3 linked regions of the Homo sapiens genome follow. The protein of the gene in region 2 purifies or fractionates together with the protein of the main gene of each other region. This does not show direct contact. Each region holds a gene or a part of one and is shown on either strand. Other genes may lie near its edges. The genes, in order: ERGIC1, SLC43A2 and EPB41L1.

The links.
Region 1: the proteins of SLC43A2 (region 2) and ERGIC1 purify together in Homo sapiens (affinity purification with mass spectrometry; one large-scale study listed by BioGRID and IntAct). This does not show direct contact.
Region 3: the proteins of SLC43A2 (region 2) and EPB41L1 purify together in Homo sapiens (affinity purification with mass spectrometry; one large-scale study listed by BioGRID and IntAct). This does not show direct contact.

The regions. Positions count from the first base shown.
Region 1 is NC_000005.10:172,837,176-172,840,827, reverse strand, and holds part of ERGIC1 (endoplasmic reticulum-Golgi intermediate compartment protein 1), read right to left. Parts: intron 3,479-3,652; exon of another isoform or gene 3,255-3,478; intron 630-3,254; exon of another isoform or gene 1-629. UniProt on the Homo sapiens protein: Possible role in transport between endoplasmic reticulum and Golgi.
Region 2 is NC_000017.11:1,590,738-1,594,389, forward strand, and holds part of SLC43A2 (large neutral amino acids transporter small subunit 4), read right to left. Parts: intron 2,543-3,652; coding exon 2,450-2,542; intron 963-2,449; coding exon 829-962; intron 735-828; coding exon 532-734; intron 212-531; coding exon 65-211; intron 1-64.
Region 3 is NC_000020.11:36,227,588-36,230,519, reverse strand, and holds part of EPB41L1 (band 4.1-like protein 1), read right to left. Parts: intron 1,189-2,932; coding exon 1,180-1,188; 3' UTR 1-1,179. UniProt on the Homo sapiens protein: May function to confer stability and plasticity to neuronal membrane via multiple interactions, including the spectrin-actin-based cytoskeleton, integral membrane channels and membrane-associated guanylate kinases.

The sequences.
Region 1 (3,652 bases), on a different chromosome or scaffold from region 2:
TAAAATACAAATTCAGATTCCAGGTGGGCACTGAGATTCTCCACTTCCAACAAGCTCCAAGGTGCTGCTGAAGCTGGCATCTGGGACTGCACTTTGAAGAGCAAGGTTATTAGTAGAAAGTTACGGCCCCTTACTGTCCACTTCACTGGTGGGGTAACAGAGTTGCCGAAGGTCATGCAGGAGTGATGGGTGGGACGGGAACTCCACGCCCCAGCCTCCCGAGGCAAGGCTCTCCACCGCCACCCGACCTGGCTCCCCTGCTGCTCTCAGCCCTGCTTGCTATTGCTTCTCCCAATTCAGAGCACTTCTCCTCCGTCTTGGCTGTGCATTAGAATCACATGAGAGACTTTAATATACAGCCAGGGTTGAGGCTCACTGATTTAGATGTACCGGGTAAGCCTCACCCCAAATACCCTCTTCACACCCTGCCTGTCTCTCCCACGCCTGACAAAAACTGGCTAGGAGTAACTCCAAATAAAATACGAAAGGATTACCAGATGGGGAATGTAACTTAACCAGGACACAGCTGGCTAAAGCCCTGTCTCCTGCTACTACAGCACCACAGTCAGGAATCCAAACGGCCTTGGGAGGAGAGGACATTCCATCTCATTCCATGTCCCCGCGAGCAGGTAAACATGATGCTCTAAGCTGGAAAACCCCCACTGGTCAGCGTGGGAAAACTGAGCCCCTCGAGGGTGATGCCATTAGCTGGTGTGAGGGTCTTTAAAGACCATTTCAGAATCAGGTATCACGCTACATGAGGCTAGGGGGAAAAAAGTTGATGGCTTTAAGCTTCTTAATGAGCACTGTTGGGTGAGGATTAGTGAAGAGAAACCCAATGAATCCAATTAGAAGAGTTCTCAGTTCTCTCTGAATTTAGTGAATGGAAAAGAGAAAGCTTTAGAGATGAGCCTACAGGACACAGTGGAGCTCTGGTGCCAAATGGCAGTGTTCCAATCCCAGCTCCAGGAACGGGAACGACCGTGTTTCCGAACTCTGTGGCACCTCCACTGGCTCACCTGTAAAGTGGGGTAACAACAGCACCTCCCTTGTAGGACTGTGGAGAATTAAAGGGGCTGATACAGTAAGATCCTTACAACAGTGCCTGGCACTAGCAAATGTTCAATAAACCCGAAATACTGGCCTTTTCACATAATTTTCTCTCTGGTCTAATTTTTATTTTCTTTTTGCCCTGATTTTTAAGGCTATATGTGTATGTGTATGTGTGTGTATGTGTGTGTGTGTGTATGTGTGTGTGTGTTTTGAGATAGGGTCTTGCTCTGTTACCCAGTGTGGAATGCAATGGCATGAACATGGCTCACTGAAGCCTCCACCTCCTGGGCTCAAGAGATCCTTCCACCTCAGCCTCCCAAGAAGCTGGGACCACAGACGCACATCACCACACCTGGCCATTTTTTTTTCCCCATAGAGATGGGGTCTGGGGTCTTGCTATGTTGACCAGCTTGGTCTTGAACTCCTGCAATCCTCAAGCAATCCTCCCACTTTGGCCTCCCAAAGTACTGGGATTACAGGTGTGAGCTACCACACCTGGCCCATATATATATACTTTTTTTTTTTTTTTTTTTTGAGACAGAGTCTCGCTCTGTTGGCCAGGCTGGAGTACAGTGGCAAGATCTCAGTTCACTGCAACCTCCGTCTCCCGGGCTCAAGCAATTCTCCTGCCTCAGCCTCCCGAGGAGCTGGGATTACAGGTATGTACCATCAAGCCCGGCTGATTTTTGTATTTTTATTAGAGACGGGGTTTCACCATGTTGGCCAGGCTGGTCTCAAACTCCTGACCTCAGGTAATCCGCCCACCTCAGCCTCCCAAAGTGCTGGGATTACAGGCATGAGCCACAGCGCTCATTTTATATTTTTTAAAACTTGCTGTAAAGTATATGTTCTTGTCAGCTTCCTTGGAATTCTTTCTGGAAGAAACAGCAGGGTAGAAATACAGGCATTCATGTTAGCTACTCTCTGCTGAATGTTAACTCTGTGCTCAGAGGTCCCTGTGGTGGCTGAGGCTTAGCTTGGTGTAGGAACTGATGGGGCTACCAGGGTCCCATTCCCTATTGGGGCCTAAGGAATTAAGACTGGGCCAGGTGCAGTGGCTCATGCCTGTGATCTTAGCACTTTGGGAGGCCAAGGAAGGAGGATGACTTGAGGCCAGGAGTTCAAGAACAACCTGGCCAACATAGCAAGACCCCATCTCTATATAATTTTTTTTTAAAAAGGAATTCACACTGGATCCTTAGAGCAATGAGACCCATTTGAAGGTTGAAATCAGGACATGAAAATATCAGATCAACTTTGGAAAGCTCACTAGGGAGTCCTGAGGAGGTCTGGGGTATCCTGGAGGGAGAAAGACCACTCAGAAGGCCAGAGTGAAAAATGGTAGAGGCCAAACCAAGGCCCTGCAGCAGGGCCAGCCCCATCAGGGCCGCATGACCTGTGCAGGCACACAGGGTCACACACTCAGAGGGGGGTCCATGCTTGGCTGAATGCGCTGCTGCTGCCGTCCTGAAATTCTTAATACTTTTTCAACAAGGGACTCCACATTTTCATTTTGCACTGGGCCCCACAAATTATGGGCCTCATCCTGCATTGCAAGTTGCATTGCACATTGATCCTGCAAGTGTGCATTGATCACACTTGCCCCTACATCTACTCTACCAGGTGAGGCAGCGAAGTTTACATCCCCTCCTTAAAATGAAGAAATGGAGGCTCCGAGAGGGGAAGTCAATGGTCCCAGAGCACATCTGGTCAGTGCCAGTGCAGCGGCACCCCCGAGGCCTTGGGTTTTCAACATGGGGGCTGTCACTGTGGGACAGCAGCCACCTGCACCTCCCGGAAGGCAGTGCTCAGGCACCACTGGGCCTGGGCACAGGGCTTCCGGATGCTGTTATCTTCCCTCCTCACCCACCCTGGGCTGGTGTGCAGAAGGCAGCAGGTGCTACTGGCCCCAGGCCAGCCGGAACTCGAAACAACACACACGGATGTGGGTCACAAGGCTAGTTCCACAACTGCAACAGCCAGCCATTAGTGAAACAATTTAACAAGAGCAAAGCAAACACAATAAATCATTGAAAGCTCAGCCTCCCTCCCCTGCGTTCTGCCTCCTTCCTTAACCCCAAAAACAACCTAGGAACGGCAGATTCAAGGGTGGAGAGGGGAGATTTCTCCACTAATGGCTGAAAATCTGCCCACTGAAGCTGGCATATCAAGTCACGTCATGTCTATGGCTTCCTTGACAGATTTCAAGAGGCATCTCCAAGGATCGAGTTTGGCTCAAGCACAGTTCTAGGTGCTGGAGATGCAACCTTGAAGAAGCCTGATAAAAACTTCTTGCCCTCAGGAGCTCATGTACTAATGGGAGGGAGAGAGAAGCAGCATGATAATTAAGTGAATTATATAATGTGTTAGGAGATGATGGGTGCTTAAATAAAATGACACAAATAAATATGGCGGCCAAAATGGATGAGGCGCTTACTCTGTGTCTAAATGCTTTCCGCACTGCCTCATCCCTCAACTGTTCTACTTCGGTGAGTACTCTCCTCATTCCCATTTCACAGACAGGAAAACACAGAACTCAGTTGCACCAGGCTCTACAGGCAGTAAGAAAATCAGAAGTATCCGTAGGGAAGGGCAAGAG
Region 2 (3,652 bases):
GGTGGCCAGTGGGCTGGGCTCAGGCCGGGGAGTGACAGCGACCGAGGCTGCCCGGGGCACCTACCTGTCTTCTGGTCGCCGCTGACCAGGAACTTGAGGATGTTGTTCATAGCCCCCATGTAGAAGATGAGCCGCAGCTGCGTGACGCACATGGTGACCAGGCTGAGCAGCAGGATGGGGCTGAACACGCTGTGCATGAAGGAGGGGGCCACTGCAGGGAGAGGGTGCGGGGCTCAGGGCCGGGGCACACTGTCCCCACCACCGGGGGGACACGCAGATCCCTCCACGCTGGAGGCCAGGAGGGGGCCCTCGGGACGGGCCTGGTGAGGGTAACGGGGTTGGCGCTGCGGTGGGGTCACCTCTTGGGTGAAATCAGGCAAATCCCTTTCCCTCCCCCAGGCCTTCCTGAGCGCCTCTGCAGAACAGGGCGGGCGGGGCCGCCTCCCCTTTTGGGGTGAGGTGGGAATGGGGTGAGCCGATACCCACAGAGCACTCCCTGCCCGTCGCCCGGCTGCGGTCTCAGGCGGGTACCTGCGGCATCCGGCTGGCACTTCACCTCCAGGTCGACGGTGGACAGGCACAGCTTGTGGCCCTCCTGCAGCGCCACCTGCTCCTTGGCACTCCTCATGGAGCTGCCCACACTCAGGCGCCGGCCCACCGTGGTCACCTGCTTGTAGAACTGCTTCCCTGTGATCTTGTGGTCAAAGCCCAGCCAGCTGAACTTGATCTTCACCCTGGGGCCCCGGGAGAGTGTCTGTGGGTGCTGCCCGGGACCCCGGCTGGGGGGCGGGGGCTGGGGGCAGGCGGGACGGGGGCACCTCTACTTACGAGTAGTCCATGTCCTCCGGCCCCGGGAAGGGCTCAAGGGGCCAGTTAAAGAAGCAGTTGAGGAAAACCAGCCCGGAGCAGCCGGCCCAGACCACGAGGACGACGATGAAGGAGACACCAGCATCATAGATGAGCTGACAGGCACCGCGGGGACGGGGTGGGGGGGGGAGGGGGCAGAGTTAGCCCGGGGAGGCCAGAGCCGCAGCAGGCAGGGGCGTCTGGCCACCCCTGCTGTCCCTGTGCTGAGCCGCGCAAAGAGGCACAGCCCTGCCAGCCTGGGCGTTGGGGCATCAGGCACCCGCCTTCCAGTCCTCCCACCGTGCCTGCCCTGCTGGTCATCTGGGCCTGGCGTGTGATTAGCCCCCCGACTCGGAGGCCTTCCTGACCGCCCCGCCATGACCACGGCACGTCTTGCAGGCTCATAGTGATCGGCCCAGCAGAGGGGACGGTGCTCCTGGTCCGTCGGCTTGTCTGGTATTAGCGGAGCTCCCTGAAGGCGGGAACCGGCCAGCCCCGTCCACTGATGCTTCCCCAGTGCCTCTGAGAGCTCACATGGCAGAGGCCAAAGAAATGCTCAAGGAAGCCAGGCATGGTGGCTCACGCCTGTAATCCCAGCACTTTGGGAGGCCAAAGTGGGCGGATCATGAGGTCAGGAGTTCCAGGCCAGCCTGACCAACATGGTGAAACCCCATCTCTACTAAAAATACAAAAATTAGCCGGGCATGGTGGCGGGCACCTGTAATCCTAGCTCCTTGGGAGGCTGAGGCAGGAGAATCACTTGAACCTGGGAGGTGGAGGTTGCAGTGAGCCGAGATCGTGCTGCTGCACTCCAACCTGGGCGACAGAGCAAGACCCTGTTCCCCCCCAAAAAAAGGAGGAGGAAGAACTTTCGGGATGCTCCCCAGTCCAGGGGCATGAGAATCTCTGCAAGTCCATAGGATGGCTGGCCCCAGAGTCCCAGCTCCCACCACTTCAATGCCCAGGTGGCCAGCCCACACCGTGTCCCCCTCTCCTCGCCAACAGCATTCCCACACACACCACCGAGGAAAGGGGCTTTTACTTAGTGTGAGGGTCAGAGGTGGGAGAAGCCCCTACGGGGCCCTGGCAGACCCACAGGGTCTGGGGAACTTGGGCTGATGGACTGTGAGGTGTTTGCTTCGTCCTGACCCTGTGTGACTTCCACAGGCTCAAAATCCTGCCTAGGAGGGAAACAGCTGAAACACTTGGCCAAGAGCAGTGCTTTGGCTGGCGGGGAGTAACGGTACAATAACAGCAGGCTGGGGGTTGGGGAGCAGGGGAGCAGCGGGAGACCAGGATGACGGAGGAGACGGGGGCAAGACTCACAACTGGAAACAGACTCACCCACCGCCCTTCCCCTGCCCCAGCCCCGAAATGCAAAGGCACCTGCGGCAGATCCTGCAGCCACATGCGTGATTCCCGTCCCCTGAGGCCCCGCGGTTTTCATTTGTCGCCCCTGTGATGCCCAGGTGCATCCTGCCCGGGTGGGGGTGGTGGAGAGGGGCCACCCCGGGTGCCCACAATTGCCTCCCTCTTCAGAGAGGGTGGAAGGAGCCTGGAGCAGGCCTCTGCACAGACACCAGTGCAAAATACACGTGCTCACCTTGATTCCTGGAAAGGTGACTGCCGAGGAGGCGTAGGACCCAATCATCAAGGCAATAAACGTGGACCGAAGGTCGCCGAACATGTTGGGCAGCTGAGAGATAAGAAGCAGAGAAACCTCAGTGGGGAGGATGCACCAGGGAAGGGGAGGAGGAGGGGACAGAGAACTAGGCCCCATGAGGCCCCTTCTTCACCTGCGCCCCTTCCTGTGTGACTCACAGGGGCATTAGTTCAGGGGCAATGACCGCTCACTGAAGGTTTCTCCTTCATGGACTGAGGCTGATGGGGCCAAGGAGGGAGGTAATGCAGAATACAAGCAGTTGTCTGACTTTCCGGCTGGCAACCCTCCCTATCTCTCTGCTCCTGGCAGAGCCCAGGAGCCTTCTTGTCTTTTCAGGGTAACACTGAGATGCCAGAGAACAAAGTTATGAGCCTCAGGCAGCCCTCAAAGGGAGAAAGCCTGTTAAAAATAAGAATCTATTTGGGGATAATAGCATCATTTTATAAATAAAAATATCAGCATTCCAGAAAGACCAGATGTCAGCAAAAACTGCTTTTGGTTTGGAGAGGGTAGGTTTTTGGAAGATGTCAATCAGAATTCTACAGTTCTCTTCGGTCTGAGGATGAAGCTGGCCCAGGATTCCTGCTTCTGAATTTCTTTTCTTTGTTTTGAGATGGGGTTTTGCTCTTGTTCCCCAGGCTGGAGCGCAGTGGTGTGAGCTCGGCTCGTTGCAACCTCCGCCTCCCTGGTTCAAGTGATTCTCCTGCCTCAGCCTCCCAAGTCGCGAGATTAGAGATGCCCGCCACCATGCCTGGCTAATTTTTGTATTTTTAGTAGAGACGGGGTTTCACCATGTTGGCCAGGCTGATCTCAAGTGATCCGCCCGCCTCGGCCTCCCAAAGTGCTGGGACTACAGGCGTGAGCCACCGCGCCCGGCCTCCTGCTTCTGAATTTCTCAGTACAAGCAGGGGATTATCTTCCCACAGGATGTTCGGCCCGAGCAGTTAGCATCCTGGAAGGCCAACGGGAAGCAAGGTCCGGGCTCTCTTCCCAACGAAGCCACTCTCGGCATCTCACATCAGCTCATTCTGGGTACAGGGCAAGAGGGGGCCCACCTGAACAGGACTTCAAGGCTAACTCTTGCTCATTCTACCGAAATCCAGGCCTAGGGCAAACTACATCCTCCCAAAGAGGCACAGGTTC
Region 3 (2,932 bases), on a different chromosome or scaffold from region 2:
TCCCCACCAATCAACCAATTACAAACACCACACACAGTATTACTACACTGAACCCGTCAGCCCCTACTGTGAGCCAACCCACACCCAGAGTCCAGGTCTCCTTAGCTGGGCCAGTTCAGTGAGATCTAGGAACCTCAGGATACATCAATCACAGTCAGATAATTATAATTTTAGAATGTCAGCTTCATACTTACCAGCACTGTTTATTTTAATATTTTTTCCTGTTATATGTAATATACATAACTTCAAAGCACATCCGTACAAACCTCCTACAAGCTGCACCTTCATAATGAGAAACCATAAGCATACAATGTCTACTTCCCTTCCTGTGGCTTCGTTTTCTGTTCTTGCTTTCTTTTCTTTTTCTCATTTCAAAGGAGAGTCATCTGCAGTGGCCCTCAGAAGGACCAGGACACAGAGGGTGAAGGGTGTGGGGTGGGGGAAGGGGGAAGGGGGAGGAGGGAGCCGAGACAGAAAATGACAGCAAGACATTGAGAGTTGAGGGTGAGGGGAGGCGGGAGAGAGGAAGGTAGGTTTTGCAGCCCAGTGTCAAGATCCAGAAAGTAAGAATCCAGTGTTCCTCCTCTTTCTTTCCAAGTGGGGAATTTTCTTTTTTTCTCGGAAAATGGTTGACTGTGCGTGTCTTGCTGCTGTGACTTCTCTTGCTTTGCTGTGCAAGTGTTTTCCTTTGCATTCAAGTGGGCCTTAGAGATGCTGGAGAAGAACAAATGGAATTGCTCGTCTGCTAACTGTAACGTGCAGAACCAGGGCGGGAGGGACTTCTACAATCATCGTGGTCTGGCTTGCGTTTCTTATTTGGCGGGGGAAAGGGGTGAGCAAGGGATTATAGTTATTATATAATTTTTTTTCTTGAAAAAAATCCCACCAGTTCTTCAATTTGTCTGCAAAGGAAATGTAGGTGTTCAGATGTCGGTTGTTGCTGTCAGCCAACTGCTCTGCCAGCCCCAGCAGCAGTGCAAGGATGCGGTGTTTCCTGTATATATATCTATATCTCTATATATCTATATATATATGCTTTTCCCTTCCCAGTCTCTCATCAGTGACAGTACGTCGCAGCTGGGACGTCAGTGTTGCGTCGGAGAATCCAGAATGAAGGCCCCTTCTTAATGGTTCTCTGGCTTGGGTTGGACCAGAAATGCCAGGATCTCTTCACAGAGGTCAGGATTCCTGGAAGCCAGAGGCATGGGGTAGAATGGGGGGTGGGGAGTGGGGGGAAAGGAAGGAAGAGGACAAGAAAAATTAGTAACTTCTGTCACTTGTTTTAAAATACATGGCAAGAGGTTGTTTTTGCTACCCTTTACCATATGCCCTTTATTGTGACTCAGCAAGGTAGAGTGACTTGCACCTGTAATCCCAGCTACTTGGGAGGCTGAGGTGGAAGGATCTCTTGAGGTGAGAAACTCAAGGCTGTAATGTGTAATCATCATGCCTGTGAGTAGCTATTGCACTCCAAGGCCACGCAGCTTGTGTGTGGCAGCAGAGAACCGAACCCACATCTGTTGGATTCCAGAGCCCATGTGTGTTTGCTCGCTTGTTTCCAGGGAGGTGGTAATCTTTTACTTTGGCCTGACAATGTGTTAAAATGTCCTTTAACACCGAGAAGCTAAGATCATCATCATTTTACTTTTTCTTCCTATCTTGTCAGCTCTAAGAAATGTTTAGTCACGATTGCAGATGTTCTTTTTTCATTTGGTTTTCCTTTCTGTTGTCCGTGGGCTTGCTGTGTCCTGGAGATTAAACCACAGACAGCAGTGTTTAAATAAAGAAATGAAGTCTGGATTCCAGGTTTGGCTCCAAAACTCAGTGTTTAAAGGAGCAGGCTCTGAAATCAGACTCCCTGAGTTCAAATCCCACTCTATGGGCCTGCTAGCTCTGTAATCTTGGGTGAGTTTCTTAACTTCCTTTACTTTAAACAGTTTTTAACAGACGAGTCTTACTATGTTGCTCAGGCTGGAGTGCAATAGCTATTCACAGGCACAATCAATGCACATTACAGCCTTGAATTCCTGGCTGCAAGTGATCCTTCTGCCTCAGCCTCCCAAGTAGCTGGGATTACAGGTGCACGCCACAGTGCCTGGCAAGTTTCTTAACTTCTTTAAGCCTCAATTGCTTCCTCCGTAAAATAGGTTCTGCCTCCCATTATAGGGAGGAACTGAAGCAAGGGCCCAGCATATAGTAAGTGCTGAATAAATACTGGCTGTTCTTATTATGATGATTGTTGCTGTTGTTAATTTAACCACACACTACTCTGATCTCCTTGAGGGTAAGGGCTATCTTTTAACTCTTGTCTTTCCAGTGTTCAACACTGTGCCTGGCACATAGCAACTACTCAAAACCATTTAATGGATGAAACATCATTTCTGCTACTTGCATGCAGTCGAGTGCTAACGGAATCACAGAAAATGGATCTTTCTTGGCTCATTTGACACATAGGAAAACCGAGGCCCAGAGGCTTCAGGCTTAGTAAGTTGGCAAAACCAAGACTAAAACCCAAGGTTCCTGTTTTGGAACAGGTCAATTTTTTCCCATTAAATTTTGGAAGGTTAGGAAGCTAGGCAAGTGCTGCCCTCTTGCTGGTGGTGTTTGGGAGACAGGTCCTCTCTGAAGGAGGTGGGCCAGTGGGAGAAGATGGAGCAGAAACCAGACGTCTGACCTGCAAGGTTGCAGGGAGAGAAGGGAAAAGGTTCTGTGTGACATGAGTGACTTTCCACGCTCATAGCAAGAACTTCAAGAAGGAAGAACTTTAAGAAGGAAGACAGAGTTAACTGAAGCAGGGACAGATGTTTCTGGAGGATTTGCAGAAGGAACAGAAGATGAAGACCAGTAAGACAAACACCCTCATGGAGACAGGGCCTCAGGCACCAGGCTGGTGGTGGAGAATTACGATCTGACTTTCTCAGTACTCTCATCA